2 separate regions of the Homo sapiens genome follow, and region 1 is linked to region 2. Evidence: fine-mapped expression QTL. A gene starts in region 2. The other region holds a variant in brackets. All regions are shown on one strand. Distances are between the middles of the regions.

Evidence for each region.
Region 1: its variant is fine-mapped to the expression of EOMES in lymphoblastoid cells (GEUVADIS, PIP 0.95).

What each region holds. Positions count from the first base shown.
Region 1 is chr3:28,074,052-28,090,424 of GRCh38, reverse strand. LOC105377008 (a long non-coding RNA gene) reads left to right here. Exons shown (of 3, transcript XR_940674.3): 3 at 1-1,208. Among named protein-coding and RNA genes, the nearest start is that of LINC01967, 54 kb to the right of the region's middle. RefSeq lists a silencer at 8,522-8,571. The variant A/G (reference allele first, on the strand shown) is at 9,336.
Region 2 is chr3:27,713,403-27,729,775 of GRCh38, reverse strand. EOMES (eomesodermin) reads left to right here and starts at 7,453. Exons shown (of 6, transcript NM_001278182.2): 1 at 7,453-8,362; 2 at 9,451-9,605; 3 at 10,295-10,416; 4 at 10,883-11,041; 5 at 11,128-11,189; 6 at 11,968-13,823. The coding sequence starts at 7,482. The coding sequence ends at 12,706. It overlaps LINC02084 (long intergenic non-protein coding RNA 2084), which reads right to left. Exons shown (of 2, transcript XR_007095851.1): 2 at 15,376-16,373. RefSeq lists enhancers at 1-620, 621-1,552, 4,398-5,272, 14,791-15,687, 16,359-16,373 and a silencer at 7,818-8,027.

The sequences.
Region 1 (16,373 bases), 360 kb before region 2:
GGGGATTAATCTTCAACATATGAATTTTGGAGGAACACAAACATTCAGACCATAGCAATGTTTATTGGGGTGAATGCTCATTTAACTTTTCCCAGAACAATCCCTGTTAAGTCTGCTAACCTCCTGTAGTTAATGATAAAATTTCCTTCATTTTCCGAAGTGTTCTTGTTTGGATTATAAATTATGTAATTACCCTAATGACAATTAACTAGACATTTTTTTTCTTACTGTATAGCACCAGTATGGGCAATTGCAGTGGCTTTCAAACTTGACTACAACTCAGGGAGAAATACATTTTTCATCATAACGTAGTACACACACACACACACACACACACACACACACACGCACACACACACACACATACACTAGATAAAGCAAAAGCTTTAGGAAATGGTACTTGGATATTTTCAAATATATTTTAGTCTGTTTTTTAATTAAAAATCTCTAGTCATGATACATTAAATTGACTTATTGACCCACAGCTTGAAAAAACACCAATATTTTGGATGTGTTTTAAGGTCATAGAACACGCCTTCTGATTTTTTTCCTTCCCTAGGTAATCCTATGCAAGTTGCCAATCTTCTCTAAACAACACTCTTCTTCATCTATAAAGTAAATATTAATACCTACCTGAAGGTGGCAGAGAGAGTTAACTGAGATAATTTGGTTAATGAGCCTGAAATCTAGTCAACACTTACTAAAGGTAATTTCTTCTCCTCTCTTCCGCTTCTAAACCAACAGGACACAGCTGAAGTTCACAGGTTTGTAAAAGTGAAAAAATATTTTTCTTAACCCCCTGACCTCTAAAGTTTGGTCAGAGTGTTTAGCCACTGATAAAACATCTTTAAGCACTGTTACTTCTATGTTCAACTAAAAGAGTCACTTTTCAGTAATTTCCGGTCAAGCCCATCACAATAGCACTTGCAGCTTCTCAAAAGAAAAGAAAGAAAGAGAGAGAAAGAAAGGAAGAAAGAGAATTGAAGGAGGAAAGAAGGAAAAAAATCATGATGAAGATTTTAAAACATGTCTTATTGAGGGATGGGATGGTGAGGAAGTTGATTATAGTGATGGATGTGACAGACAGGGCCCGTACTTCTGTTTCTGTTCTCAAACTAACAGTTTTCACACATAACCGTTTTCACACATAACACATTAGTAGAATTTCTTTTGAATATTTGCCTTGGAAATAAAACAATAATAATATAGCATTTATTATATTTATTATATATAGAGTGTGTGTGTGTGTGTGTCTGTGTGTGTGTGTATCCCACATGTCCACATGAGAAATAATGAAAGAAGATGGAGCCCAAGTAAGAGAGTCCTGATGCCCCATAATGCAGAGAGACAAAGAAGTGATGAAATCAAGTACTCTACCTCTGGGCCGCCAGAATCCAGGCCTGGTTCCAGAGTCCTCTGGTTTTCACCGTGTTGGGGTGGGGCCTCCCCGGGTGCACAGCTTTTCTGCACTGGTTGGCATCTACTGAACCTTAGGTGATCACAGCAGTGGTAAAGACAAGCCAGCTTCCGTCTTTCCATAGTTTGTTCCCCTGTACTTCAGGAGGGAGGGGAGCCCCTCTATGGAATGCAATACACACTAGGCATCCTATCACTATGTAAGAACTCATCTTGCTCCCTCATTTCACATTACATCTTTGACTGTCTTGCTCAGTTGTTTCACCTTGGCTAGTTTTTACTCTTTGGCGAGTACTCTCACAACTCTCTTGTAGGCAGGAGCCCATTTTCTTTTTCTGAGTACTCTGGACTCCTTGCATGGTGCTTCCTGGGCAAGGGGTGCTCAACAAATTGTGCTGATAATTAAGTCATTCACTCAAAATATATTTATTAAGCACCTAGTGACCAAGACAGAAAAAAGTTACTATTGACCTTCAAATCACCAAATCTAATGATCATTCCTTACTGCTCATCTTCCTCCACCATTGCTACCTTAGAGGCCTCCCGTGCCTGCCTCCATTTCCCAGACTTACTGCTTGATTCTCCCTGGCAAGCTTTCCCTTCACCATTTTTTTTTCAGCACTTGTAAGGAACTGAATCTGTCCCCAATAGTACACAGTTTGAGTTAGAGCCAGGACTAGAACTCAGGCCTGCATATAATCAAAGATCAGAAAACGGCCAAATCTTGGTGTTTCTATTCACAGGGAGGAAACCCAGATGGGCCTACTCACAATACATGCTTCCAAATGAAAGAACGTTTTTCCCCCTAAGGACATTGTTAGGACACTGTCTAGCTAGAAGATATTCAGAGAAAATTCACTCCTTTACCTGCCCTAGGGAAATGGGAAAATTCAATGTTTGAGCCATTTACCCAAAAGAGTAATCCATGCTGGAAATTTTGCTGAAAGTATTCTTTTAAAAGGCCCTTCTGTCTTTATTATGACGATAAGACTGCTGAGTCTGCCCAAGCATATGAGGTTGCAAAGAATATTTCTTTTTATTCAGACCTTGTATTCTCTACATGATGAAAGGATTCTTGGCACATAGTTGGCAATTACTATCTAGGTTTTCTGCATAACATAGGTTTTTTAAACTAAGCTTTTAACTCAATAGACATCAGGCTCCAATGAAAATACATGTGGCCTAACACGAGCAGAAATAAACACAATTCTAATCAACTTAACTGTTGACAAAAGCATGTGGTTTCATTGCTTGCGGCCAAAGTTGTAAGAGTGGACTCTGATTTCTTGCAGGAACACCCCTCATTTATGTGTGCAAATAGGGTAATTAAGTGTCCAATTACCAGATTTGCATTGGCAAATGGGGGCTTTGTGTGGGTAAAATTCTCCATGGTTTGGGACCAGCTGAAACTTAGGTCTTTTCTTTTTGGATCAATCCCCCAACAATAACACGGGCATGATGAAGTTCCCTTCTTGTCCTGATCTGAAGCCATGGCTGAAGACTTCCCTTATTTTGGTAATTCAGTGAAGCGGAGAGCCAAAGTTAGGATCTGGGGCCTTTTCTTCCTTACTGTCTACTCTGAAAAATAATTAAGCATTTCAAGTATTTTCAGACTGACTTTTTTTTTTTCCTGCTGGCTCTGTAGAATTGATTACTAAGGTGAAATACTTGTAAATATTCCTTTTAAAAATTTAACCATATGGAAGCATTAAGTTGAAAGACACTTCATAAAACAACTTTATTCTTTTCTCCCCCAGCTCTCGGGTGAAATCTAAGATGGGTCCAATGACTTTCTCAAGTTTCAGATAAAAAGTTTCTGGATACTTTTAGTCATGAAGCCAATCTTCTTACAGTAATGAAGACATCCTTTCTGGGATATCCCGTCCTTTCTGGGATGTCTAGTCAAGGTGGAGTAAACATATTCCACTCTGTCTCTCTCTATGAAGGAAGTTAAAACCCTGGATGGAATGTATGTAGCATTTCTCTGAGGAGCCTGTAAAGTAAGTAGCAGCAGGTAGATTAACGAAAGAAACCAGAACCTGAAGTACTACTGAACCACTTTTCCCCTCTGGCATCTCCTGCTGCAGGACCGAGACAGCTGGAAAACAGGAACTATACATCAGGTACAGACAAAATGAACTCCAAGAAAACCCACTTAATTTTAGTCTAAAGAAGGAGAAAGGGGGCCTCATGGGATCAAAGAGAATTTATGTTTTCTACTGTTCTATCTCCCAGGAAATTCTATGGCAGTGGTGGTGACAATTGCAGTGGTGGCTGGTCAGGTATCCAAAACTCCAAGAAAGGAGAGTCCTTATGTATGACCAGAGAAACTGAAAGAAGTTCCTGCTGCTTTTTTCCCCTCTCTCTATCCTCTTGCCGCTCGGCGTTGGAGGCAGAAAGAGCTGGCCCCTTACTCTGGCCCATGATAGCCTTCAGTTTGCTGAGGGCTTGTATGTTTTTGCTCACTTGTTTTTCTACAATATTCTTCGGCTACAACGACCACCACATAAACTCTTGTTCACATATTTTATGTCCAGGACAAAGCTCCTATCCTTGATCAAACCTCTTCTTTCCGGAAATGGCTCTACCTACCTCTGTTATAATCATCTCGTCATTATCGCTTTTGCTCATAGGCTGTCACCTTCATTTGTGGATTCATTCCCACCCTTCAGTGGCTGTTTCAGTGCTTTCAACAAATATCTGAAGGAATGATCAAGTCTGTTTTCCTAGAAATAAAATATTCCAAGAAATATTTAAGGATACATTAAGATTTCAATAAAGCCTCAAAAGCACTTAAACAAAAATGAAATTATTTGAATATTTTATTATAGATACGACTGCAATACAATTTATTGCCCAAACTGGGAAATGTTTGAGAGTGAAAGGGGGAAAAGGCACTAAAATAATGAAGACATAGTATTTGATCTACAACAGGTATTAACTGGAACACATTACGGTCCTCATTGTAAACTTAATGGCAAATACCACCTTGTCTCTTGCTAGTTTCTTCACAGTTTCTTCTTCACCTACAGACCTGGATGTATACATATGTGCACAACCCCCTCTAGAAATGCACGTTTTAACTTCATGTCATATCCCAGACTAAGCCAACTAAGGAGAATAAAGATGTAGAAATTTTAATATTGCTTATAAAATTATATTTATGCAGCTTCCACCTTTCTTTCTAACTTTGTCTCTTACCTACTCTCCAAATACAATTTCTCCCAAACAGAAGAGATGAACAATTCCCTGGCACTTTGCAGTATACTGTAGCTTTTAATTGAGAAATGGAGCATTGTGGTTGAACATTCTTTTAGAATCATTCTCATAGGTTAAGATCTAGGTTTTGCTATTTACAATCCATGTAACTCCAGTTCTCTTATACTAAGTTTCCTCATCTATAAAGTGAAAACCAAAGGTAAACTCTCCAAGGGATATTGTGAGAATTTAATAAAATAATTGGCATAGAAATGTGAGATGTCCCAGGCAAAGTCATGTGTGTATTCACCCCAGTTCCCATTTTGTAAATGGCCATCTACATTACCAATTTCCACAAAATGGTATGAGAGGGAAACTGTTACATATTTAACATGAAGCCAGAAATTGTAAGGGAGGTTTAAATCTAAGAAACTTCCTTAGAGATTCTTCATCGCCTCTAAAGCAACATCCAATTCTCAGGCCGAAATATGTAACTACTGCTTGTCCGTTACCAAATTAATAGATGCTTCTTTCTAGCTCATTAGCACGTGTTGTTTAAACACCTTCTGCTCTGGAGGAGAAATACTTCTAGAATGAGGAAGAAAGAAGGAGATGGTAAAGAGCTTAATAGGTGGGTCTTAAACCGAACCCCACAAGAAAACCACTACCACCATCACAACAACAAACCAGACACCAGCTTGCTGAACCCCTGAGTGAAACTAAATTTCTTTTTCAAATCCAGAATATTTAACCAGGAGTGTGCTCTGATAATCAATTCTGATCAAACAAAAATTTATGTCTTCTGAAATTATCAAACCAGATTAAACTTGGAGGACCATCTGTTAAGACCAAGCTAATATTTTAACATCTTATTTGCTAGAGAAATCCATTTTCTTGTGTGTGCATTTGGTGTCATGAGTGGTGAAGGCCATTGAGTTAGACATTGTTAAGAGACCCACAATAGCATACTAGGTTTGGCTGAGTATCCTCCTGGCTAATTACTATGTCCTCTGAGGGAAGGAATCTCCAAATTACCAGGGAACCTGAAGCTCTTTACCTATCCACTTAGGATTCAACAGTTTCAACCCTGAAATGGTCTTTGATCAATGCACAAATCAAAAGACTAAGAGCTTTTACAGTATAACAGACATTATTTTGACTATAGGTGTTTCCATCAGCTCCTGGCTGACTTTCTCGTTGCCCTACTTCCGCTGGAAAACTAAGGTGGGTTATGTTTCCAGTTCACTTACTGAAGTCATCACTTGATTCTCTCCATAGTGGAGAAGAAGTCATCCTACAGTCTTTTGTTGCTACGATCTTTACAGAAAATTGTGAATAATATGACTATTTGAGTAATATCATGTCCTGGTTAATTATATATTTCTTAAGGTTACAAGTTAACAGAGCATTTTCTCACTCTCCACCCCCACATTAGCTCTGAAAGATTTGGTAAGGATTTATAGTTTCCTTTTCTCTGTGAAAATAGTATCTAAGTATGTGTGTTTGCATTGTTTGGCAGTTGTTTATACTCTAGTTTCTACCAAAACTAATTTATTTTGCCTTTGTAAGTATAATTTACTCCACATTTACCTCTTAACATAATCCAGCTGTAGGGGTTGAAAAACTATATCCTGTGGGCCAAATCCACCTGTTCTCATAATGTTTTTTAGGACACAAGTACAAGAATTTGCTTACTTATTGTCTACGGCTGTTTTCAATATCAGAGTAGATAGGTGTGACAGAGGCTGCATGGCTGGTGAAACAAAGAAAAAAAAATTACTACCTGGTCCTTTACAGAAAACATTTGCCAACCCCTTGTCTAGTGTAATCATTCCAAACACAGAAACTCACTGCACAGATTTATAGAAAGTAAAGTGCAGTGTACTCTGTTGAATATATTCTAAATCTATGACATATCTTAGAAGACATTAGTTTTAAGAAAATTATTATTGACAGCTGTTTTTTCATTCCTGAGGAATTCTCATTAATTAAAAAGTTCTTATGTAAAATGCAGCAAACTCCCAGTAATGCATGCTTCATAATTACAAAAATTCAAATGTTCTTATGTAAAAATCCTGCCTTCTAGTTTCATCAAAACTTAAGGATATTAAATGAGATTTAGAGTCACTGAATATATGCTCTGTATTTATTAATATATTATATATTTGGATGGGGGGGAGAAGAAGTAATGTGTTCCTGCATTTCAAAGAGCTTCTAATATTTATGAAGAGATATAATCCTAACAATGTCTTCCATAATTGAAATGTACAAAAAAATGAATAGCACAGAGAAGGCAGAATTCTGAGCTTTCACTTATTATCAGTAATTTATCATTAATTACAAACATTGGTTAAGCATTGATGCTGGCCCAAGCCCTTTGGTTTGCCTGAAATCTGATATTATACAAAGTAAGTCACGGTTTGTATTCTCAGTAAGCTTATAGCTAAAGACATAATTACTAGAAGAGAATAAAGTTAGTCTTTAGAGGAGCCATTAGCTGTCTATGGCCATACCACCCTGAATGCACCTGATCTTGTCTAAGAGTTATCTTTCAATAGCAGTGTTAAAGCATTTCTCTTGCACATCAAAGACCTGTTTTAAAAGTGGTGAAAGGGCTCAATTTGAAGGGAAAAGAGAGGGCATAATTTTATCTTTGATTTTAGACCATTGGCTGTCAAAATTTGCTGCATATTGAAATTCCTGAGTGATTCTAGTGCACAGCCAAAGCTGTGAACCACTGGTCTATAGTAATTCTTTTCGAACTTTAAAGTGCGTCAAATGACCTGAGCATCTTGTTAAAATGCAGATGCGTAAACTGTAGGTACAGGGTGGGGTCAGATGATGCTGATGCTACTGGTTCATGGAATACATTTGGAGTAACAAGAGTTGTGATTTGGAGTGTGTGTGGGTGTGTGCGTGTGTACATGACTGCAATGTGTGCATGCACGTATTCCTAATATGGCTGTTATTGTTCTCTCTAAAAATAAAACTTGTCCTCTCTCTGGGTTTCAAATACATAATGGCACACTCAACCAGAGGTGATTTTCACTCTTGATTATGGAAGATTCCTAATGAACTCCCATGCACAAGGACGCTCGCCTGCTGACTCATGCACCCTAGAACCCTACTTAGGCCATCAAGACAGTTCTCTTTGCTGTTAGCTCAGGTTTCTGCTCAGATGAGCCTGTGCTGCTGGCTCTGGAGGGGCCTCACTGATAATGGCATCTGAGGGCATTCAATTAGCACATTTCATGTTTCTCTGGTCATAGACACCTCATAATTTCTTCACTAATGCAGCTGGATCTTTTTCTTTTTCCAAATCATTAGGCATCCCTTCAATGTTACTTTCCACTTTCCAGCCTGTAGTGGATAAAGATTTTATTTTAATACTCAACACATTTGTGTGTTAGGGTAATTTAGGGAGAAACCAGGTGCTAACATATTTTAAAAGAGGAGTTTCATTTTTCTGAATTTTACTAAGACATTGATCCTGCCTCCTGTCTTTACTTGAATCAGAGTATGAATCCTTGGCATTAATAAATAGGTGTGATGAAGGCTGTGTCTGGAGATGAAAACTGAGTCTGAGAAGATAGAGAGGAGAAAAGGATGGGGACAATGAGTGAAGGGTTCTCAGACTCATGCCTGCAATGTAGGAGTAAAAACCCCTGTTTTGGGGGAAAGGTCATAGGTAATGAGTTCCTCATTTTGTCTTAAATCCTGGTCTTTTAGGAAAGAAAATCCCTGAAGCAAAGGTAAGATCTGGTAATACTTCCTCTGATGTGAGCTGGGTGAGAGGACTCCGTGTTTCAGAGCTTCTCAAACTTTACGTGAACAAGAATCCTTTGGAAGATCTTATTTAAAATGCAGATTCTGATTAGTCAGGTCCAGGTGGGGTCTGAGTTTGCGCATTTCTAACAAGCTTCCTGGTGATGTGGATGCCGCTAGTCTGAAAACCACACTTTGAGATGCAAGGCTTCATTGACATGCACCTGGGGCCCCAGTTCTCAACCTTGGCTTCTCATTAGAATCACTTGGGAAACTTTCAAAACACTAATGCTCAGGCTGAACCCTAGACCTATTATTAAACTAGAAATCTATAGTATGGGACTCACACATTAGTAATTTTGAAAGCTTTTTGAGTGACTCCCATGTGCAGCTGTCTGGGCTGAGGGAGATGTGAAGAAAGCAAGAATCAGTTCTCAAAGGTTGGTGCCAGGCCCATCAGTGTAGTATTAGTGTCATCTAGGAGACTGTCAGAAATGCAAATTCTTGGACCCCGCCCTATACCTACTTAATCAGAAATTTTAGAGCTAGGGCCCGTATATATATATGTACTCTGTGCATTCTAATACATGCAAAAGTTTGAGAACCAGTACTTTATATATTCAGCCTCTCAGACTGCTGTGATAGTAGGAATAAATACATTATAAGTATTAATATGATTCCAAGTACCCTCTGTTGAGAAGTGGCAGTAGAATCCACTTCCCAGCTATTGAATGCTTACCATTTGCTATATAAAATACCAAGCAATTGACTTACATCTCATTTAGTGGCACAACATCACTGACAGGTAAATATTAATGTTTTAACACAAATGAGGAAACAGAAGATTACAGAGGTTAGGCAATTTGCCAAAAGTCACAGAGGAGGTAAATTAGGATTCCATCCCAGGCCTTTCTGAGTACGGGTGCTATCTCCTAATCTAGGTGAGGCTTCATGGG[A/G]ACTGAAAGCAAGTGTAACTCACTCACTGTGTAACCGCTTTGAGCATGTAAGCCATGCTAGGTGTCAAGCTACTTTTATTTAGAAAGCACTCCTTATATTTATGAACTCATGAGCTAGTGGGCTTCAGAGAGGAAAACTGGTCATTACTTCACAGATAGATGCACTCTATGGCAGGTTAAATACCTTGTGCTATGAGTAAAGTGCTTTCTTGGGAATTGGAAGATGAGTGGCAGAATGGAAGAAAGATTTTCAGAGGAAATTACATGTAAAGTGATACCTAAAGGTTGTCTGTGAAGACAAGGATAGTGGAAGTTTGATGGGAGGATGTTTCAGAGACAAGAGAGACCAGCATATTCAAAAAGTTGAGAAATAAAAGAGAGTTTAGCCCTCCAGGGCTGAGGTATTACTCTGATTTATAAGAGGAAATAAATTCCTTTTGTAACTACTATAGTTTGATCAAAAACGTTAGCTGGATTTTTATTTAAAAGCTATTACTTTCTGCCAAAGCGATGAACTGCTTGTGATACTTGGTTGGTGATACACAACCAAATTATTTTGTTTTAATGCATGTCTTTAGCTGAACTGGAATGAACACTGTCATGGTTCCTGCTTGTTTGGCTGTTTGGCTTTCAGATCAAGAGGTAGAAGAAAAAGGTTCACAAATTAATGAAATAATTTTTAGGGAAAATTGCAAGTCTCAACTGTCAGAATTTAACTGTTAAAGTCATTTTGAATCAGATAATCCATGGCTGAGGTCCTGTGGCTTTGTCTGAAGCAACAGCAAATAGAGGAATTGATGTATAAATGCTGCAGCTTCCTTAACCCTTGGGTGGAATAACTCTGAACATGTGCTCTACTCTGTTACCCATGGGATTAAGGTCCACTTGCCCACAGCGGTAACTGGTCTATAATGCACCATTTATTTACTGCCTGCCTCTCTCATTTTCCCACTTTGGTGTTTTTTGCCCCTCCCAAATATACTACTTCCATTTGATTCCTTGTCTGTTTCTGGGGAACCTAAATTAGGGCAATTAGAGTACAACAAGAACTCATATGAGGTATGGGGGTCTGGCTAGGCAGGAAGAGGAAGGGGCAAGCCCTGCTTCTGTGCCCAGGGCAGTGTTAAAAGAAGAAAAGTGTGAATGATAAATGAAGGAGGTCAGATGTCAGGATTCCCATTTTCCTCACTCCTTGTCCTGCATTTAAAGTGAGAGGACAGGGCCGGGCATGGTGGCTCACGCCTGTAATCCCAGCACTTTGGGAGGCCAAGGGGGGTGGATCACCTGAGGTCAGGAGTTTGAGACAAGCCTGGCCAAAATGGTGAAACTCCATCTCTACTAAAAATATAAAAATTAGCTGGTTATGGTGATGCATGCCCATAATCCCAACTACTCAGGAGGCTGAGGCAAGAGAATCGCTTGAACCCAGGAGGCCAAGGTTGCAATGAGCAGAGATCGCATCACTGCACTCCAGCCTGGGTGACAGAGCAAGACTCCATCTCAATGAATGAATGCATGAATAAATAAATAAATAAGTAAATAAATAAATAAAGTGAGAGGACAATGGAAATATTTAGATGTTTCTAGGATACCCCCGAGACATAAAGATTAGTGGTCTACTTCCCTAGACACAGCTAAGATCTTAGGAAGGATCTCCCATTAATCTCTGCACCATGTCCTTATGGAGTGGGAAGAAAAGTACACCACTGAACGACAGAAGAACAAGAGAGATGAGAGATGAGACTGAGGAAGTGGGCTTGCTCCCCCTGGCCTGCGCCTGGCATGAAGGGCATACAGGTATTCCTACATGTCCTGATGTGGGGACACAGAATGTAAGAGACAGAAGGTGGACTGTCATACACCTTGGGATGGTCAGAGTCTGCAACATTTGAAGGCTTCATAAACAGAGTTAATAGGCCAGGATCACAGTCTCTAGTATTAGGCCAGCAGGAAGCTCCAAATAGCTGGTTAGAACCTGATTGCTCTTCAGTCTATGCAGTTGGTCAGGCCAGCCATCCCAAGGTAGGGCCTCCAGGAACCCAAGAACTAACATGAGTCTAGAGTGTTCATTCACCACTGGTGCTAAGCACATGCATTTCAGACACCATGTTCAAGAGGAGCAAGGGGAAAGAGAGGAAACCTAAAAGACTGAGTATATAGCTGAAAGACACTATACATCCAAAGGGTCTGACATTTAATGTTGTATCTCCGTTGGAAAACCATGAAGAATAAGATTTGGCCAGCTGTAAATAAAAAAGGTGAAATTTCTTTGCACATCTGAAGAACAGTATGAGAACATTTATGATGCACTATATAACAATTGGAGATAATGGGCATAAATTACCCAACCAAGCACCTGGCCCATGATAAGAACTCAGTAATTGGTGGCTGTTGTCATTAACACCATAATTGATTATCTCAGTGGCCTCTGCTGTAATGAAAATCTGGTAGTAGCTAATCTAGGGAAGCAGGAGGAATCACAAGTCTTAGTTCTATTGTCATTCTTTCAAAAAAAAGACTGAGTCCTAGAGTCCTAAGGATCAGGATTCTAAATAATAGTCTTTCAGTTAGACAAAGTCCTAGACTGGTTGATGGAAATATGTAAGTTCTGGGGCACTGGTTGATGGAAAATATACGGCAAATCTGTTCCACTTCTAAGAGTTTGATTTGAATGGCCAGCATTGAAGAACTTGTATCAAAACCTATCTATATTGAAGAGTTTGTGTTAGAATTCACTTATATTGAAGAGCTGATATTAAAATTAACTAAGCCAGCCTAAGCCTCAATCAGGACTGAACACAGAGATCATTTGCATGCTATTTCTTCCATTAATTTTAAATTCAACACCACAAGAGGCATAAAACAGAACAGCAACAACAATAGCCATAACATGCAGCTGAAAGATTTCTGTCCAGTTTCTTGCCTTCTTCTTGCTACTGACGGCAGATAAAGAAGGCATCATTTTCTTTGACATATGCAGTGTACAGTCACCTTGCCTATTAGATTCAAATAGGGCAAAAGAACACTGAGGGAGGGATGGGCTTAAGGGAAAATTTGCATATACATTTCCATTAGGGTTAAAAACATTTAAATCCACATTACCCTGGACCATAGGATAATGAATGCACCATTATGGACAAGACTTAGCGTGTGTTGCTGCTGCATTTGGCAGGTTCAAGTCTTGCTCTGGGTGTAATATTTGGTGACTCATTTTTCCTCAAGCATAGAGTAATAGGCTTTAACTTTGCTAAGCTTTTCTGCCAGCCCTTCGCCCCCTGCTGTTCCATTATATTGAACTTGTAAGCAGGACGCTCTGTCCGGCTCACCCAGATTACCACAGCAATACGGCCCCGCTGAGGGGCTGGTGTCAGGATAAGTGTCAGGGAGGGAGCTCCCCATCTTGGCATGCTGTTCTCATCTTATTAAATTCAGCTTTGTGGAAGCAGGGAGCCCGCCTCTCAGTCACACTGGCTCAAGTGTGATCCAACTGCTACTGTCAGACAATATGAAAATAGGAACCACCACAGCTAATGGCAGGTGCTGCTTCACAGCTGAAAAAAAAAAAAAAAGTCTGAGGGGTTTTTATTATTATTATGATTTTATGAGCCTGTGTGGTGTGTGCCATTTTACTCTTACAGACACTTCACTAGATTGAAGGCCTGATTCAGAAAGCCTAATACTTTGGGAAATGAAACAAGATTGCGCACTTTCAGCATATTGGAGAATCCAAGTTACAGAACTGCTTTTATTTGCATTCTTTGTTGTAGGTTCTAGTGGATCATTCTTAAATCCCTGAGAATCAAAAGTGTCCTAAAAATCCTAAATTGTGTCACTAAGATTTTTGTCTTAGTGCAACAAGGAGACAAAAGGATGAAAACATGGAACAAAATGGAAAATCTAGGTCTGGAAATAAGTTACTGTGTGAATTTGAGAGTCCCAACTTCACTCTAAATTTCTGCCTTAACATATGTTTTGGTTATATATTGCTGCAGAACAAACTACTTCAATATTTAGTGGCTTAAAACAACAACAATTTTAATATGCAATAAATCTGCATAATAAAATTATATGGCTTGTGGTTTGGCATTCTGAAGAATGTCTATTTGAATGAACGAAGTCAGCCTAAGCTCCAACACGGACTGAACTCAGAGGCCATTTTGCATACTATTTCTCCCACCACTTTTAAATAGTCTCTGTTAGATGGTTCTTCTGGTGGTCTCACTTAGGGTCTCTTTGCAGCTGTGATCAGATTGTGGATACGCTTAAACACCCAGGATTCTCCTCTCACGAATCTGATAGATACCCTGGCAAGGATGCCTAAGTCTGGGACTGTAGCTGGTAAAGGCAGAAGTTACTGATTCCTTTCTCTCTTTCAACTGGCCTCTACATGTGGTGTCTCTACATGGTCTTTCCAGCAAAGTAGCTGGATGTCTTACACCATGACTCAAAGCTACCGTCTTTCTTACAGGCTTAGGCCTTGTAACTGTCTGACTGTCTCTTCTCCTGCATCCTATCAGTTGAAGGAAGTCACAGGCCCACCAGTCCAGATTCAGTGGGCAGGAAGACTGGAAGGTATGGTTCACTAGGGGCTGTTATTAGAGACCAGATAATGTATCACATTATGTATTTTGGTCTTCAGCCAACATCTAGTGATGTTATCAATCATGCCTGATAAACTGTGTCATAAAGATAATTTATTCAGTTATTCTATAACTTTTTCAATTGAATGCAAGTTTAAGCCTCTAGGATTTGCTATCTGTGAATTGGAATTCCATCACAGTACAAAGTTCATTTTGAGATAATCTAGACTCTACTTGGTTAAGGTGTATGGTTGGAAAGAGAATGAGAAAGGAAGAATGTGGGAAGCCAAGTCACTAAGTGCTTGAGCCAGGATGAAGCCATACATATATCATTCAACAGCTTCCTTAGAAAGTAACACTGAGTCTATTAGGCATAATAATCTAGAAATCTAAAAGAGGGGCATTCTGGAAATACAGTGACCCAAATGCAGCCATTTGACTTCCTCACCAATTCCAACCTGTTAGTCCCCACTTAACTGATATGGGACAATCTTCTTTATCTGAGTGAGCATCTGGAGACCAGCTCTGTAGAACCCCAGGAAATAATTTACCTTGTGAAGGTTGGTGAACTCCAAGGAGAAGGTCCTCATTGGCCTTTCATGAGAGTACCAGGTATCCCTGGTTTCCAAGAGGCCAAGGAGTTTAACAGGAGGACAAAGTATTAAAGAGAACAAAGAGACTGGGGAGCAAAAGAGTTCCCCAATATAGCAGAGGGTAGCCTGCTACCTGGTGCTCAACTGGACAGCCATTAGGTGTTGTTAAAAAAAACGGAGATCTCTTTATTTACCCGCAATGGGAGAGCTGCCACTGATCAAACAGACCTGAGCCCCTAGAAGACTACAAAGAAACATAGCAAACCTTTTATCTTAGTCATTTTATGCTACTACAACAGAATACCCCAGACTGGGTAATTTATAAAGAAAAAAATATTTCTCACAGTCTGGAGAGGCTGGGAAGTACAAGATCAAGATGCAAGCATCTGGTGAGTGCCTTCTTGCTGCATCTGCACATGGCAGAAAGTGTTAGGGCAAGAGGGAATGGGTGCTGTGTCCTCACATGGCAGAAGAGCAGAAGAGAGTGAACCACAAGCCCTTTTTATAGCGGTGTTAATCCATTCGTGATGGTGGATTCCTGATGACCTAAATACCTCCCAAAAGGCCCAGGTTTCAACATGGTTGCACTGGGGAGAAAGTTTCTAACACTAGAACTCTGGGGGACACATTAAGATCATATCATCTTTATTTAAAAAATAATAGAATTAGTAAGAAAATTTGGTAAGTTGGCTGTATACACGATAAATATTTTAAATAATCTATACCTCTCATAGATCCTAGCCTTGAGTATCCCAACATGGGAATGGAAAACATTTCACTCATAGCAACAACAAAAACAAAAAAAGCATTTAAGAATATGTTAAGCATGACAAGATAAAGAAAACAAAAAATCTTATTGATGGACATAAAACAAGATCTGAATGTACTCTGGGGACTGTTGTGGGGTGGGGGGAGTGGGGAGGGATAGCATTAGGAGATATACCTAATGCTAAATGACGAGTTAATGGGTGCAGCACACCAGCAGGGCACATGTATACATATGTAACTAACCTGCACATTGTGCACATGTACCCTAAAATTTAAAGTATAATAATAATAAAATTAAATCTAAAAAAAAGATCTGAATGTATAGACATCCATATATTCTTCAATTGGACAATTTAAAATCACAAAAACATTTTTTCCAAAATTATTGTTTAAATTTAAATTTTCTGCAACTCTAATCAAAATCCAAATTTCTGCCTTACATTTAGATAACATTACCTGGCAATGTTTGTGAAAGAACAAATCCTTAAGAATAACCAAGATAATTATGCAAAGAGAAGGTAGTTGCCTACTACTGTAAACTGGATAAGATATCATTATGCAGACTCACTATAATTCATTAAAGCTTTTTCTGCTAATGTGTAATTCACTAAAATCAATAAACATTCTTGCATACATGTCCCTATGTACTAGTGCACATATTACTGTGGTGTACCTAGGAAGAGTATTTGCTGGATTGCCCATACATCTATGAACTCAATTGGGATAAGAAGTTGCTTTCTTGTTGCATTGTTAGCTGATGTAGAATGGGCATTATTGTACCTCTTCAATACCTCTTCGTTTCTTCTTCTTCTTTTTTTCTTTGTGCAGGATATTGAATAAATTTTCCTTGGATAAATGTAAACAAAAACCCCTTTCAAAGAGGCTCTTCCTTCAAAATGTAGAAAAAGTACAAATTCAGGAAAGTTTTAAGAACAGAAATATGCGCATGAATCAAGCCTAAGCTCTTCCTGCTGTGTTTGAAAAGTTTTTGAAAAGCCTCAAAACAGCAAAAATGTGAATAACCCTTAAACATAGATTACCAACACATTTGTTTTGTTTATTCACAAAGGCTTTTGTACTCTCTTGTATATAATTTT
Region 2 (16,373 bases):
TCTCTGAGCCTGGATTTTCTTAACTGTAAAGCGAAGATGCTGAAAGCACCTACCTTCAAGAGGTGGGAGTGAGAGCCTAAATGGGATGATGTATGCCAAGGGCTTGGCCCAGCCCCAGCACTTAGAGAGTGGACAACCCATGTCATGATTATGCCAAGCAAGGATGACCGATTCTACCGCAAAGTTGGGATTTGCAACCGAGTCATGGAGCCCGGTTTTCTCCAGAGACTCATTCTGAAGGTCCACCGGCTGTAGATGGGTACTGAATGCCGTTCACTGGCTTGCTCCGAAGACTCACAGGGTCCCCGTTCCATAGCCTACATCTGTCCCCCCCAAAGAAAACAATGACCCAGCCCTGCCACCATTCACACGTACTTAATCCCCCCACTAGGAGCCCCGCAGCCCAGACCGCTCGAATTCACATCCCCAGGCTACCATTTTCAGCTGGGTGCTTTGAGCCAGGGTCTTCGCCTCTCTAAGCATCACTTTACTCTTCTGTAAAATGGGATTATAACAGTTTAGGGTGCTTTTTCTTTTAAAAGATTATACAAGTAAAGCAGAGCAAAGTCAGCTGCTGCTTTTCTTATTCTCCTCTTTTGTGAATTTGCAGATAAACTCTGTTCTTGAAAAGTCAGCCCTAAGTGGTGGAAAAATGATCCTAGCTGCTCTTTGTTGCCCCTTGGATACGCCTTTACTATGGCTCCTTGATATTCTGTGGGGGGAGGGAGTTCCAGGGACCGTCCCGGCCCCTACCGAGTGATTAAGCAGCCCAGGCCGGCTTGGCCTTCGGGGCCTCCTCCGGACTTCCCTCGACAGCCGCTCTCTGCGGTAGATCTTGCTCTGCACTTGCTCTGTCCCCTTAATTTGCAGATGCCGCCACTGAGGCCCGCAGGGACCCACAGCGAGTGGATCCAGATGGCCTCTTTTTCTGGACATCCAGTTAAGGGTGCCTTCTCCTGGAGCGAGAACCCTGCGGGAGGCTTCCGACTACTCACTTAACTCCTTCGTGGTCAGGCGTTTAACCAAGTAGGTGGAGAACAAAAGCTGAGCTAAATACCCTATTTTCTTTCTTTGACAAGTAATCGGCCGGAACGGCAAAATCCCAGCGGGTGGCGGGAGATACTGGAGGCCTTGGGAAAAACAGAATGCTAATGGCCGCCTGGAGGGGGCGGAAGGCACAGCCTGGTTAGGGCGCCCCAGCCGCCTCGCTTTGAAGTGCACCTCTCCAGCCGAGCTCACCGGGAGGGCACTTGATTTCCCCTTTCGGGGAAATAAAGAAGAGCTGCTAGAGTAACTGGGGACTCTCTTTGGTTCTGACTGACTCCCTCCTGCTTCCTACCCCTGGTTCACGTTGCTTTTGACCTGTTTGCTCCTGGCCTCCCCCATCGGACTGGGAATCCCCGGGAGGAAAAAGACTAAGGTTTATTCATCCTCATTTAGCTCCAGTATCTTAGTAAGAACGGTAAAAAGTAAGCTCAGTCTAAGTGTAATGGCGAGTAGTAGGAAAGACTTCCTATGTAGGTGCCAGGTACTGTTCTAATTGCTTCATATTAATTATGCTGTTATACAAGTGGGGAAATTGAGGCACACAGAAGTTAAAGAGCTTTCCCAGACTCACAAAGATAGTAAAGGTTACAGCCACAAATACATACAATTCTGATACAAGGTTCTGTTTTCTCTTAGAAGTCTGGAAAGGGAGACCTTTAAGGAATGACTGCGACGGTTTTCTATCCTGTTGTCTGTCCTTCCTTTCTCCTTCCCTCTCACTGTTTCTTACTTGGTTATGTTATGGGCTTACTTATTTCTGCCCCCAACCCAAACTTCCTCTCCCTACTTTTCTCACATAGGGTCTGGATTGGGGAATTCCAGCTACCCCTGTCATATTGAAGCCTTGGTCAACAGGATTTGGGTTCTGCCCACCTGTTGTGTAGACATCTTGCTGCACCTGTATCATAGGTGTGCCTTCTGTTGAAACATTAATTTTCATAGACTCTGTCAACTCTGTTAGTAAAGTACAATTGATTTACATTCAGATTAACATTTCTCCTTGGTGACATGGTGTTTGCTTCCCTTAGCAGCTGTACTACAATTCCAGCACTAACTTCTTTTTTTCTATTTTGCTATGGAAGAAGCTTAGCATGGACATACAGACAAAGGCCATGCCACAATGTAAGAACCTTGAGATAGAAAAGGTCTTAAAAATGATATATTTTAAAGTCTGAAAAAGATGAAAATATCATGTCTTTTAATTTAGAAAGATCTTTGTTTTCTTTTTCTCTTAGGAAAAAACTTTAGTCCTTGTGGTTATAAAGCCTAAGACCTGACACTGTCCCTGACCTCTGTTAGCTGTTCCAGCACACAGGTTTAGTAAATCTTTTCATTTAATTGATAAGCACCTACTGTGCTCCAGGCTTTTCAGGGTAGAAAAATGAGCAAGATAGATGGAGCCCCGTATAACTTTCGTATATAGTGTAGCAACAATTAGCCAAACGTTCCCAAAATACACTTTCTTGAGAGTGTTTTACTTTCTTTGCCTAATGTGGCTTTTCTTGTTATTATATATTCCCATATACATGATGAGGAAGAAGAAAAAGATGATGATAATGATGATGATAAAACAGCAGCTAAATACAGAAATTCATTAGCAGTTTAAAAATTACTTTCATAAAAAAGGTAAGTCATGATTTTGTGCTGTTGCCAAAGACTCTTGATTCAATCTTTAGGAGAAGATAATTTATCTTTTGTAATAAGCAACTATTAGTGTGTTTATTTATTAACTTCCATTTCAGGATTCCTTCACCTCCTCATATTTTAACAGTGAACCACAAAGTGCATTAGCAATGTAGATATATAGACTTAAAGCAAAGATAATAGTTTAAATTGGTCATTTTTGTTGAAAAAAATACCATGGGTTTAATATAACACTTCACGTCACACATGTGTAGCTCTGGTTTGGGGTTTTTTTGTTTTGTTTTGTTTTTGTTTTTTTGTAAAGCAAGTGGTCAGTGTATTTCAGTGTCATGGTGAAATATAAATTCTAAAAATTCTTATAAAAGTGAAACTTTTGGTGGGAGTATCTTGCTCTTGTCAGCAGAATCAACACTGCTTGTCTTTGCCAAGATGTTTTATCTTACGGGACATTTGCTTAAAAAAAAATGAAACATGAACAACCTAACGGTGATTAAAGCTCCCTCCCTCTTTGGAAAGCACAGCAGAGGTGGCAGATCTGGCCATCAGAGAACAAAGGGCCAAAGAGTGAACCTGAGTTGGTGAAATAAAATGTAACATCAACAAAGAAAGGGCCATAGATAAATAGTAAAAGGACCAACTCACCACAAAAAACCCATTGACGCTTTCCCAGAGTCCAGGCGAAGCGCTGGTGACCGGTTAATGTTGGAATGTTTTCCTAGGGTTAAAAGGAGAACCGGCAGCAAGTCTGCTCAGAATTTACAAAGTGTTTGAATAACATGGACAGTGTTTTGATAACACGTTTTTAGTGGGGGTGAAAATAATAGTATTTATTGGGACATTTATATGGGCCCCCTTGGTTGTGGGGGGTGGGTGGCACATGGGGAGAGGTAAACCTTATATCATTGCACTCATCTATAACTCACCTCTGTAACATACCCATATGTGTGTAAATGTATTTCTTATATAATAATCCTGTTCCAACCAAATGCTTCTCAGTTTTGCTTTTAAAAGATCAATGCATGGCTAGTGGTTACCTTTAAGGGGGAGAAAGAGATAAAGAGGTCATCTGGTCAAGTTGGCAATAACTTTGACCAAGACAGTGGTATGAAGTTGGTATTATTCCTCAGAACAATAGAGCGTGAGATCTTTAATGTGTTCACACACAGACTTGGCCTTGGCTTCCTGGTAGCCTTTAAAGATTCCTGCTTGCTCCATCTCAGGCTGAAAGGTACAAGATTTGAGTTAATCCAGCAGGTATTTGGGTCTGGGGTTTCAAGGGGTTTCCATGTTTCCTCCCCAGTGTTGATGTTTTTGTTCAATGTATTCCAATACACTGTCAGTTGAGCCACATAAAACCAGGCACCTTTCAATAAATGTCTCATTTGGATTTCATGAAGCTTGGGGTGTAATTGAAATCAAACAGCAAACAGGCTGGAAGGCTCTGTTATTTGCCCACCCAGTCTAAGGAGGGTGCTGCCTGACATGTTCACTTAAGCCACTGCTTTGGCTTTCTTTTCTATTCCTACTTCTGGAAAGGAGTGCCTGGATTTTAAAGTGTGGCTGGGACACGTGAAAATATTTTTTATGTCTCTTCCCCTGGCTATAATATTGAGCCAGCAAAAGGAAAGCCCATTTCAAGCAGGAAATCACAGACTTGCTCATCTATAACTCTCCAGGCATTCTAGACTAGTATATTCTAAATGTAATAATAATAATAATAATGTGATTAGCTAATTAACACAGAGGAACCATTAAATGAGATTTTTTATCTTCAGCCAGAAAAAAAAAGATCTGTAGCTGAAACAGTGCTTTTCATTATTTTAAAGAGAATTTGTAACATATACTTACAAATGTAATGTAATACAATATGTAATATAATATTATGTACATATTTTCCATGTTCCAAAAATCCTGGGTCCTAGAGTAGTTTTATAGAAACTGAATTTTTATTCTCTTTGAATTTGTCTTTGCTCCTCCATATGTAAAATGTGTTGAAGTTTGGGAAAAATAATAGATTTACTGGGGAAGTGGGTAGATATCAACCAAAATTTCCTGTCCCCAAGAATCAATACAAATTCTAATTATATACATCGTGTGTATATTTAATAATTAGGTGGTGCTCATACTGAACTCATGCGCTTTCAAAAGCTTGCTCTGGGGCTGGAATAAAATCAACGCTTTCTGATGTGGCTCGGGGGACAGCTGGCCCGCGTTATTCGCGCCAGAGTGGGTCGGAACGATGCCTGTTGCCTGCGATGGCACTTTGCCACGCGAAGCGCTTCCCTGGCTGCGTCAAAAGCATTTTGAAGGGACGCCGAGGCCCGCTTCTTGCTTTGTTAAAGCGCAAAACTGTCATGTACCTTTGGCCACCCTAGCTCCAAATAACGTGAGATTAGGTCTCACATTAGGGAGATTTCTCATCCCTACTTTTGCCTTAGATATCTTGCAACTCAGGTAAAGGATAATGTGGAGGATCCTACGAATAGTAATCAGGACCCGCTAGCCCAGGGATAGATACGTCGTCCAAGCCGCCCAAGCTGCACGGCCTCTTTCTTTCCTTGAGCTCGCGTACCCCTCACGGGATCTTCACGTTGACAGTCATGAGGTATTCACAGAGCTATACTACTTGAACAATCAATGTTCTAGACTTCCTTGGGTCAAAATAACACTAAAGCAGGGGAGGAAGGCATGGACAATGTAGTGATCAAAACAGCCGTGCCAAACACTAACTATACTGATGACACAAAACGCAGGAAGCGCAGGGCAGAACGCGCTCAGTACCAGCTTTCTGGCGATCTGCTCCTGGCCACTCTGTCCCAGGACCTACAAGGCCACCGCCCCAGCCCACTAGTCTCAACTTGCCCCCTCCCCTGTGGCTGTGCCTTGACCCTGAAAATCTTCGCGCACTCCTGGGTTTCACCACCACACACACGCGAGCGCGCGAGCGCGCGAACACACACATCAAAAAAGAAAAAAAAAACCGTGATAAATGCCCTGGAGAGTCTAAGTGCATTAAGGACCTCGTTCTCGGAGACCCCAGACATGCCGATGTTGGTGCTGCTGTGGTTGGAAAACTGGGTTGGAAAGCTTCGCACTGTTCTACACTTGCGTGTGCGCACTCAGCAATCCTTTGGCCATCTCATCTGTTGTGGGCGAAGAGTTTCCCGTGTGATCGCGTTCGGTTGGGGAAGCAGAGTCCCGACATCTCAGCCGGAAAATGCGCTCCCGGAGCGATTACTGGCGGCGTCTGTAATTGCTTATTAACAGCGAATATTCAGGCTTCTCCTTATCCGCAACGAAACGTGCCCCCCGCTTCCGTAATAATGAAACGATAAAATATGACGGCCCCGCTCTTGAATCTATCTGAGGAAACGCAGCGAAGAAACAAGCAGCTGGAGTTTAATTCAATATCAAACTGATTATTTCACTAATTATTCTACCTTCTGTATTTGCCGCAGAGCAGAGGCGCAGGGAATCCTAACTGTGGGGCTGTTAGGGAAGCTTTGTTTCTTGGTGTCAGGCCTAACTGAAGATGGTGGTGAAGGGACGGAATCCGGGATCAGGAAAACTGAGCAGAAAGGATTTTAAATTGTGGGGAATAAAAGTGACTGTCTCCCCGAAAGCAGTTGTGTTGGCGTGAGTATGAAGTTGGTGTTAGCTCGCTTAGTTTCACTCTTGTCCTGTCCCCAGTACCCTGTCCAAGCTTCTGATTTAGAAGCTGAGAGCTTAGGTCCTCCAGGATGGCAATGTGCTCTGGCCGTCCCCGGAATCCCAAAAGCTTAGCGCGAGTTTCCTCTCTACAAACCTTTCCCACTGGGTAAAAGGATGGGAACAAACAAAAAGTGGTTCTGTGCGTTGAAGGCCAGGGAGTTTGCCTTCGACAAGAGGAAGGTGTGCTTTGAAGTTACAGCTTCCGACGAGGAAAGAGACTTCCTTGGGCCTGTCTCCAACTTGCCCCAGTTTCCCCAGCCTCCGGGACGGGCGCTTCCCTGCAAGCTATCAGCTTGAAGAGTCTTTCTCTCTCTGGCCTCTAAAATCTGCTCCAGCCATCTCATTCCTCCAGCGGAGGGCTGAGATGACTAATGCGCCAAGGGTGGACACCGCTATGGAGACCCCAAACTTTGTCCCCCTAAATTCCGGCGAAATTACAGACACCAGGATTGATTATCACAGCGGGACGCAGTCTCAAAAAAAAAAAAAAAAAAAAAAAAAAAAAAAGGAAAAGAAAGTCACAGGCGACTTGATCCAATTAGTAAATGCCTAATTGAATTAGTGTCACCTCCACCAGCCAATAGGAGGGTCTCCGGGCTGTGAGGCCGGGAAGCCCCTCCCTGGCCGCAAATATATAAAGCAGCTAGTGACAGCCCATAAGTTTCCAAGTGGTCAACTTGACCGATGCTTTGGCAATTGAAAAAGGGCAGAAAGGCGCGGGCTAGTGGGTGGATGGGGACAAAGATCTAAGTCACCTTCTTCCAGCGTGTGAGCCTGGGAGGAGGGTGGGGGTCCTGAGGAGCAAGAGGTACGAGGAAGGAAAAGGAGAGGGCTTCTGGGTTAGTTTCCACCTCCTGCTTTCCAACTCACGGCGCTTTCCTTCCGGAAAGGACGCTGGATTCAGGGCGCGCCAGTACGCGCAGTAGCGGCCCGCGAGTCGGCAGGTGGGTAGCCCCGGCGCGGGAGGAAGGGGAAGTTACCTTCCCCTCGGAAGAGGGCGCTGGCTCCCCCATCCTGCCTTTATAATAAGGCCACCGGAGGAGAGGAAGCAGCCAGCTGCCGTCTGCGCTTTGCAAAGCATGCAGTTAGGGGAGCAGCTCTTGGTGAGCTCAGTGAACCTGCCTGGCGCGCACTTCTACCCGCTGGAGAGTGCGCGAGGCGGCAGCGGCGGGAGCGCTGGCCACCTCCCCAGCGCGGCCCCCTCTCCTCAGAAGTTGGACTTAGACAAAGCGTCCAAGAAGTTTTCCGGCAGTCTCTCCTGCGAGGCGGTGAGCGGGGAGCCCGCAGCCGCCAGCGCAGGGGCCCCCGCGGCCATGCTTAGTGACACCGACGCCGGGGACGCATTTGCCAGCGCTGCGGCAGTGGCCAAGCCGGGGCCCCCGGACGGCCGCAAGGGCTCCCCCTGCGGGGAGGAGGAGCTGCCCTCCGCCGCTGCAGCCGCCGCCGCCGCCGCCGCCGCGGCTGCGGCCACTGCGCGCTACTCCATGGACAGCCTGAGCTCCGAGCGGTACTACCTCCAGTCCCCCGGTCCTCAGGGGTCGGAGCTGGCTGCGCCCTGCTCACTCTTCCCGTACCAGGCGGCGGCTGGGGCGCCCCACGGACCTGTGTACCCGGCTCCTAACGGGGCGCGCTACCCCTACGGCTCCATGCTGCCCCCCGGCGGCTTCCCCGCGGCTGTGTGCCCACCCGGGAGGGCGCAGTTCGGCCCAGGAGCCGGTGCGGGCAGTGGCGCGGGCGGTAGCAGCGGCGGGGGCGGCGGCCCGGGCACCTATCAGTACAGCCAGGGGGCTCCGCTCTACGGGCCGTACCCTGGAGCCGCAGCGGCGGGATCTTGCGGAGGACTGGGGGGCCTGGGGGTTCCAGGTTCTGGCTTCCGTGCCCACGTCTACCTGTGCAACCGGCCTCTGTGGCTCAAATTCCACCGCCACCAAACTGAGATGATCATTACGAAACAGGGCAGGTGAGCGCAGCGTGGAGGGGCCCCTGGGTTCGGGGATAAAGGGTGACGTGTGGTCCTGGGGAAGGTCCGGGATGAGGGAGCTGAACCCAGTTGTTCCGCGCGGTGCTTAGAGTGTTTCACCGCGCGCAATAAATCTCCGTAGACACCGCATCTCCAATGCGGTGTCCCTCTGTGTCAGTGCCCCGGCGGCTCTTGCAGGGTGCCAATGTTACGGCTGTACACCGCTTTTCCCTCCCATCATCCTCACCTGAACAGACCTGGAGGAGGCGGAAATGGAAATTAGGGCATGTCCACAAGCTGGATTCGTTAGATCCTCCTGCTCGGCGGTATGCTTGTGCATGCCTGCATGCCGGCAAGGAGCCACGGATAGGGAAGGCTCAAGAGCTGGCCACCTGAGCGCAGTAGATGGGCTCCCGCAGTTTTAGGCGCCAGGGTCTCCACGGGGCGTCTCCGGGAGGTGGGCATGAAGGCTAGAGCGCCGGCCTCGGAAGCTCGGTCGGAGTAGGTGGTTAGATCTGCCCTGGAGCCAGACCTGGCTCGGGTTCGGTGCGCGAGAAAGTTCTGATATACATCCAACTGCTAACACTGGCTACTTCTGGGGAAAGGGAGGGGTGGGTGCTGAGAGAGGGGCACTCAAAGGGGACTTTTAGCCTAAAGTTTTAATATATATTTTTAACAAGAATAACCTAATATTGTTCTCTGGTACTTTTCAAAATGGTGCATTTAAAAATTAGTAGTTTTTAACATTCTAGGAGAAAAATTTTAAGAGCGTCTGAAAGGGCCGAGAATATGAGCCTTCGGAAGCACGCGCGAATTTGGAATATACCGATGTTGGGGCAAGCTTTTTTTTTTTTTTTTTTTTTTTTTTTTTTTTTTTTTTTTGAAAAGACGGAAAGGTTCCAAGAGTTGCCAACTCAAAAATATTTTACATAGTTTCAGACCACTTGATCTACCAGCATTCTGTTCACTGCAAACTTTTAAATGTGTTCCGACCCTATCCCAGGTGTCTGGGGAACCCGCTGGGGCCTGGGCCTGTTCTAGGACATCCCAATTAAAATCGATTTTTCTGATTCTATTCCCTTGCACAGGCGCATGTTTCCTTTCTTGAGCTTCAACATAAACGGACTCAATCCCACTGCCCACTACAATGTGTTCGTAGAGGTGGTGCTGGCGGACCCCAACCACTGGCGCTTCCAGGGGGGCAAATGGGTGACCTGTGGCAAAGCCGACAATAACATGCAGGGTGAGCAGAGAAGAGGCTCGGGCCGGGGAGGAACGGGCGGGAAGAAATCGTAACCCTCGACTCACACAACTCACATTTAAATGTAGCACTTTTTTTTTCCCCTTCCATTCTGAGGCCTAGAGGTGTTAGTATGAGTGTCTTTGAGTTGCTTGTTTGACGGAGAGGAGAGTTTGCTAAGTCAGATTTCTTGTCTGCCAATATGTAGATATTTAGAACCTTTAACTAAGACATCACCCCACCCCCCAATCCCTACGTTTAACAAATCAGTAGTCATAAGCTCTCCAGGTGGGAAGGGCTCCTGGGATTCTAATGTTCACTTGAGAAAGCCCAGCCAAAGTTTAGTTCACCCATAAATATCCAACTGTCTTCCATCGGATGTTGCCCTTACAGCTTTAGAAGGCCCCAAATTGACCTTCAAGAGTCATCTCTTGTTAGCTCCGTTTCTAAATTCTGAAATGCCATTCAGGGGAGTCCCTAGTGCAAGGAAGGTTGGAAGCACAGGGGCCTGGGAGGGATATGGATGTAGTCCTGCTGGTCTCCACTGGCCTCTTTAAGCAACTTTTACTGGGAGACCAACTGTAAGTCTAGCTCTTATATCTTGCTCATAGCTAAGAGACATCCCTCCGCTTTCTCCATTTGTAAACAGCCCTATATGCTTGGGTTTTGTGTTTTGTTTCATTTTCTCTTAGGCAACAAAATGTATGTTCACCCAGAGTCTCCTAATACTGGTTCCCACTGGATGAGACAGGAGATTTCATTCGGGAAATTAAAACTCACCAATAACAAAGGCGCAAATAACAACAACACCCAGGTAGAGTGACAGAGCAGGAGGGGATATCTTCTGGCTTTGACTATAAGGCTTTTTTCTAATAAGAGTCCCTACTCTTTTCACTGTATTTATAATATTTGCATTTGTGACCTGTTTGCTCGCCTATTTCTAACCATTTTTGTTCTTTTGACCTTTCTCATCTTCACTTTCTTATTGGATTTCGATAACAGTGAGTTGACTATTAAGAACAGAAATAGCGAAGTATTTTGGGAATTTAGGAAACCAAGAGGAAAGCATATCTATCACAACCACATACCCAGCTATGATTTAAATTTCAAAAAAAAAGGGGGGGGGCAATAATGAGACCTTTAAACTTGCAATAAACAAAGCTGTTAGTGAGGAGCATTTAGAAGTCCAATACCAAAATACATAATTTGTCAAAATCTAATTTTGTTGAACCACTAAGAGGCTTTTTAGATTTAGCAATTTTTTTCTGTACTCTTTCCAGATGATAGTCTTACAATCCTTACACAAATACCAACCCCGACTGCATATTGTTGAAGTTACAGAGGATGGCGTGGAGGACTTGAATGAGCCCTCAAAGACCCAGACTTTTACCTTCTCAGAAACGCAATTCATTGCAGTGACTGCCTACCAAAACACCGATGTGAGTGTCCCAGACATCTCAAGAATCTCTAAAGCTAAGGTCCAGCATGATAAATCACTCAATGACTGTTTTTCTCCCCTATCTAGATTACTCAACTAAAGATTGATCATAACCCCTTTGCAAAAGGCTTCAGAGACAACTATGATTCGTAAGTGCAGCTTTTATCCACACTTGCCTGATCATCTCTGAGCAGGACATACATCAACAGGCACTTTGCTGATAATGTATTTTAGGAAGAGCTTTTACCTTTGGGATTTTTACATATTTTTCTTTTTCCAAAATTTTTTCCTTTACTAATCTTGCTTTAGATTTTTCTCAGAAAGGTTGTGTTAATTTCTGAAGAAATGTTAAGGACTTAAAAATGAAGAGGTTTTTTTAGCATTTGAGTGAAGATTTGAAATTTTAAGAATCTGCATTTATATATACCTTTCTTTTCATTTGATCCATTTTTTTATCCTCCCAAGAGCAGATATTATTACTCTCCCCCACCCCCACTTTTTTTTTTAACATAAGAAAAAACTGAAACTAAGAGGATGTAATTTCACAACACGAAATAGCAAGGCCCTGCTCTTTTTAAAATCTGAGTTTTCTACCGCCACAGCCAGTGTTTTTTCCATCACATTGACAAAGGAGGTTTGATCTGAGTTTTTCGTGTTCTAGGACTAGTAAAGGTAGATTTTCTATAGTTTAAATACTTGATGCCTAGGAGGAAACTTTTTCTTGCATGGTGGGAAATTTTTCCCAATAAGCCAAGAGTCCAGCTAAAATGGGCCAGTGCATCTCCTGCCTCTGTTCTTTCAGCCCAACAGACCAGCACTTTCGGTGTAGATAACCAACACAAGCCTTTTTCATTTCTGGGAGGTGGTTTGTTTGGGGACAACATTAGGGTTTTTTTTTTTTTTTAAGTGTTTCTCTTTATATTGTAGCATGTACACCGCTTCAGAAAATGACAGGTTAACTCCATCTCCCACGGATTCTCCTAGATCCCATCAGATTGTCCCTGGAGGTCGGTACGGCGTTCAATCCTTCTTCCCGGAGCCCTTTGTCAACACTTTACCTCAAGCCCGCTATTATAATGGCGAGAGAACCGTGCCACAGACCAACGGCCTCCTTTCACCCCAACAGAGCGAAGAGGTGGCCAACCCTCCCCAGCGGTGGCTTGTCACGCCTGTCCAGCAACCTGGGACCAACAAACTAGACATCAGTTCCTATGAATCTGAATATACTTCTAGCACATTGCTCCCATATGGCATTAAATCCTTGCCCCTTCAGACATCCCATGCCCTGGGGTATTACCCAGACCCAACCTTTCCTGCAATGGCAGGGTGGGGAGGTCGAGGTTCTTACCAGAGGAAGATGGCAGCTGGACTACCATGGACCTCCAGAACAAGCCCCACTGTGTTCTCTGAAGATCAGCTCTCCAAGGAGAAAGTGAAAGAGGAAATTGGCTCTTCTTGGATAGAGACACCCCCTTCCATCAAATCTCTAGATTCCAATGATTCAGGAGTATACACCAGTGCTTGTAAGCGAAGGCGGCTGTCTCCTAGCAACTCCAGTAATGAAAATTCACCCTCCATAAAGTGTGAGGACATTAATGCTGAAGAGTATAGTAAAGACACCTCAAAAGGCATGGGAGGGTATTATGCTTTTTACACAACTCCCTAAAGAGTTATTTTAACCTCAAAAATTAGCTAACTTTTTGCAGATGGACTTGGTGGTGTTTTTTGTTGTCTTCTTTGCCTAGGTTGCCAAAAAGATGTTTGCCTTCCACCTTGATGCATCCTGTTTTGTGCAATTCTCTAAAAGAAGGTGCCAAAGCTTTTTGATTGCTGCAGGTAACTGAAACAAACCTAGCATTTTTAAAAAATAAGATTAATGGAAGACTTTAAGGTATTTTAAAATTCGAAGGGTATCCAAGGTTCTGTATTTATTTATTGGGGAGACACTAACCCTTCAAAGAAGCAGGCTGTGAACATTGGGTGCCCAGTGCTATCAGATGAGTTAAAACCTTTGATTCTCATTTCTATTTGTAAATTCTTAAGCAAATAGAAGCCGAGTGTTAAGGTGTTTTGCTTCTGAAAGAGGGCTGTGCCTTCCGTTTCAGAAGGAGACATTTTGCTGTTACATTCTGCCAGGGGCAAAAGATACTAGGCCCAGGAGTCAAGAAAAGCTTTTGTGAAAGTGATAGTTTCACCTGACTTTGATTCCTTAACCCCCGGCTTTTGGAACAAGCCATGTTTGCCCTAGTCCAGGATTGCCTCACTTGAGACTTGCTAGGCCTCTGCTGTGTGCTGGGGTGGCCAGTGGGACTCAGGAGAGAGCAAGCTAAGGAGTCACCAAAAAAAAAAAAAAAAAAAAGGGAGAATTTAAAAGTGTACAGTTGTGTGTTTAGATACACTATAGAATAATGTGGTATATATTGTACAAATAGTCTACATAGGTGTCTGGGATAATGTAAAACTGGTGCTTTGGCTTTGTAAAGAATTTGCAAATCACTTAACAGCTGCAGGGGCAAGGGGAGAGTTTCATCATCCCCATGATATTTGGGAATATTCTGTTTACTTCTTAGATAGTTAAGAATGTATTCAGCTACTATGTACTAACTTGAACCGTGTTTAAGGAAAACTCCTATTTCATCCTCTTCTTGCGCCATCCCCTCTCCCTAACTTGGTAATGTGAAGAAACTAAAACCTGATACCACAGCTCCTATAGGCATTTTAGAGATCTTGGATTTTTATGTACAGTCTTAGTCATTTTTAATAAATGTGGTTCAGTAAGGGAACGGACATAGCTCTGTCTTCTGTGCTGTTGGGGTTTTCATCTTTGCTTTAAAGATCTCATTTTGCTTCCTCCTGTATCGTTTTCAGCTTTAACAGTGCCTCACCCATCCCCTACCTCCACGGAAGGCTCTAGAATCTCTAACTGGATACTGTAGTCATGCGGGGGTGGGGATGTTTTGTTTATCTTCTTTTTTCCTTGAAGTGGAATGGGGCTATTTCCTTACCCCACTGGGAAGTCTGGACAATGGGTGTTGGCGGGGCGGGGGAGGGGGGCGGGGGAACGGGGGAGGGAAGATTGCTGCCGATTGCCCACATCAGACTTAACCAAGCCTCGAAAACCTCCGCTTCTGGCTCTTGGAGACCAGGCTCTGTCAGAGCGCCTGGCCACTAAGTTCTCTGGGCTTTTTTCTAGGCTTACTTGGGGCCACCCATCCTTAGGCCCACCTAGGCTCCCTGGGAACCCCCGTGGCCCTTTGAGCGCCCACCAGTTCAGGGTCCCTGGGGCGCGGCGGAGCGGGGGGCTGCACACAGCTCAGCTTCTGCGCCCACCTGCGGCTTTCTTCTGAACCCAGACGCTGCGCACCCGCCGCCGCCGGCTGCCGGCCTCAGTAGCTGCAGTCAAACTCCGCCCGGACTCGGTCTGAGGCGCAGGCTAGGGACGGGCGTGGCACTTACAAAGGAGGATTCCAGTCGTTCCGTGCACTGCCGCTCTGCAAACAGTGACCTTGGAGCAGTTCACCTTGCGCTTAGTTCCGTTTATTTGGCCCACGCTCCACGGGAAGACGAAGGACAGCCCATCCCCTGGCTGAACCCTGGGAGGTCCAAAGAGTGGGGTGGAGGGTCCCCTTTGTCCCCCCAGCCAGACGTCCCGCCAGGCTTATCTGCAGACGGCTTCAGGCCCAGATTGCAAACCTTTCCAGCCCCCTCCTGGACCCTCCCGGGGTAAAGGTCTAGCTGGGAGGATCATTCTGCTAACTGTGTAGCGCGGAAATGCAGCTGCTAAGAGGATTAGCTGCTGGGAGGCGAGCAATCAGCCGAGACCTCCTCCCCTTCTGCGCCCAATTAAGGCCGCCAGGACCTTGTACCTCGACTGTCCTGTCTCCCTTCCCCTCCGTCCCTCTGGGGCCCGAGTTCTTCCCGCGCCACCCGTGACCTTGGGGGCTCGAACTCCTGCTCCGCGTTTCCGAACGGCCTACTCAAAACACTTTGGCAAAGGCGCCCCGAACTTTACCGGGGAGCCAAGGACAAAAGCGTTGAAGATGTGCTTTTTAAGATATATGTACTGTGGATGACTGATTTAGATTCCGGAAGGGAGACTCATAGCCCCCCTATCCTGGTCAGCGCCTTCCCCACACCCCCAACAGCCCCCTTACATCTGCATCCAACCACCGAATATTGGGAGATGCGATGGAATTTCGAAAACAGTGCTCTCCTATTTCTGCCCTCTAGAAAGCCCCAAAGTGCTAATCACTGCCGGGATATAGCAGATTCTGGCCCTAGTCTATTTCGGGTCCTGTATGTTTTTGCATCGTACAGTAAAAAAGAACCTGGTACTTGTGAAAAGTCCCTCACAGTGTTTAATAGAAACGTAAGTGGCTGAGTGGCCCCAATTAACACCTTATGATAAGGCATTCCTAAGATGGAGTGTCAGACACCAAATTGTGAAGAGATGTATCTAATTAATCCTCCTAGGATGACACCGATAAACAAGCCTCTATTTAAATAAAGATCAAGGGCTCGGCGCCCGGTTTGTTTACATTCTCCGCCAGGGTCTCCTAGTATGCACCGGTGCAGGCGGTGTTCCCTGCCCAGGGAGGAGATACTGGCTCGGGGGTCTGCTGGCTCGTCCTGGTTCACATCTCCGTTCTTGCCCCAAATAAACAAAAAACCACAATAAAATCAATAAATTGCAATGAAACAGGAAAAAGCAGTGCAAAGAGGACCTGACTCGGAGTTGGAAATACTGTTATTTGCCGTTTTCCACTGGTGTTCTTTCCATCACCAAACACTTTTTGGTTGTTGGTTTGCGAGGGAAAAAAGGAAGAAGGGGGGAAAGCAGCCCACATGTAGCCTCTAGAATTCTTTTCTGCTCTGGAGAGAATTCGGAGCAGGACCTTCCTCCGGTCCCCACCCCGCCCCGGCACGAGTTCGCTCTGGGTGGTTCCAGAATTCCTCCTCCTGGGTGTAGAAGCTGGGAATTGTCGGGATGTAGAGTAGCTATCCTGGGGGTGGAGTGGGGAGCCGCAGACGTCTGGAAGGGAAACTGGGAAAGGTGGGAAGAGTCAGAAAGAACTTGAGGAGGAGGGGAAGCAGCAGATTAGCGCGCCATATTTTCAGCCCATGTTTGGGCCGGATTTGGAGCCGGTTTCAAGTCTGCAGCAACGTATCTTCCAAACCTTCAATGGAGAGTTTCGAGGCTCCAAATCTGTTTTTGGTCCCGGTTTCCCTTTTTACAGCCGTCTTTGATTCGCTTTAAACCTAGGTGAAAGCAGACTCACGGTCTTCCCTCTCCTCTGCAGTCTCTTCTTTCCGAATTAAACCTGCGTAGGGGG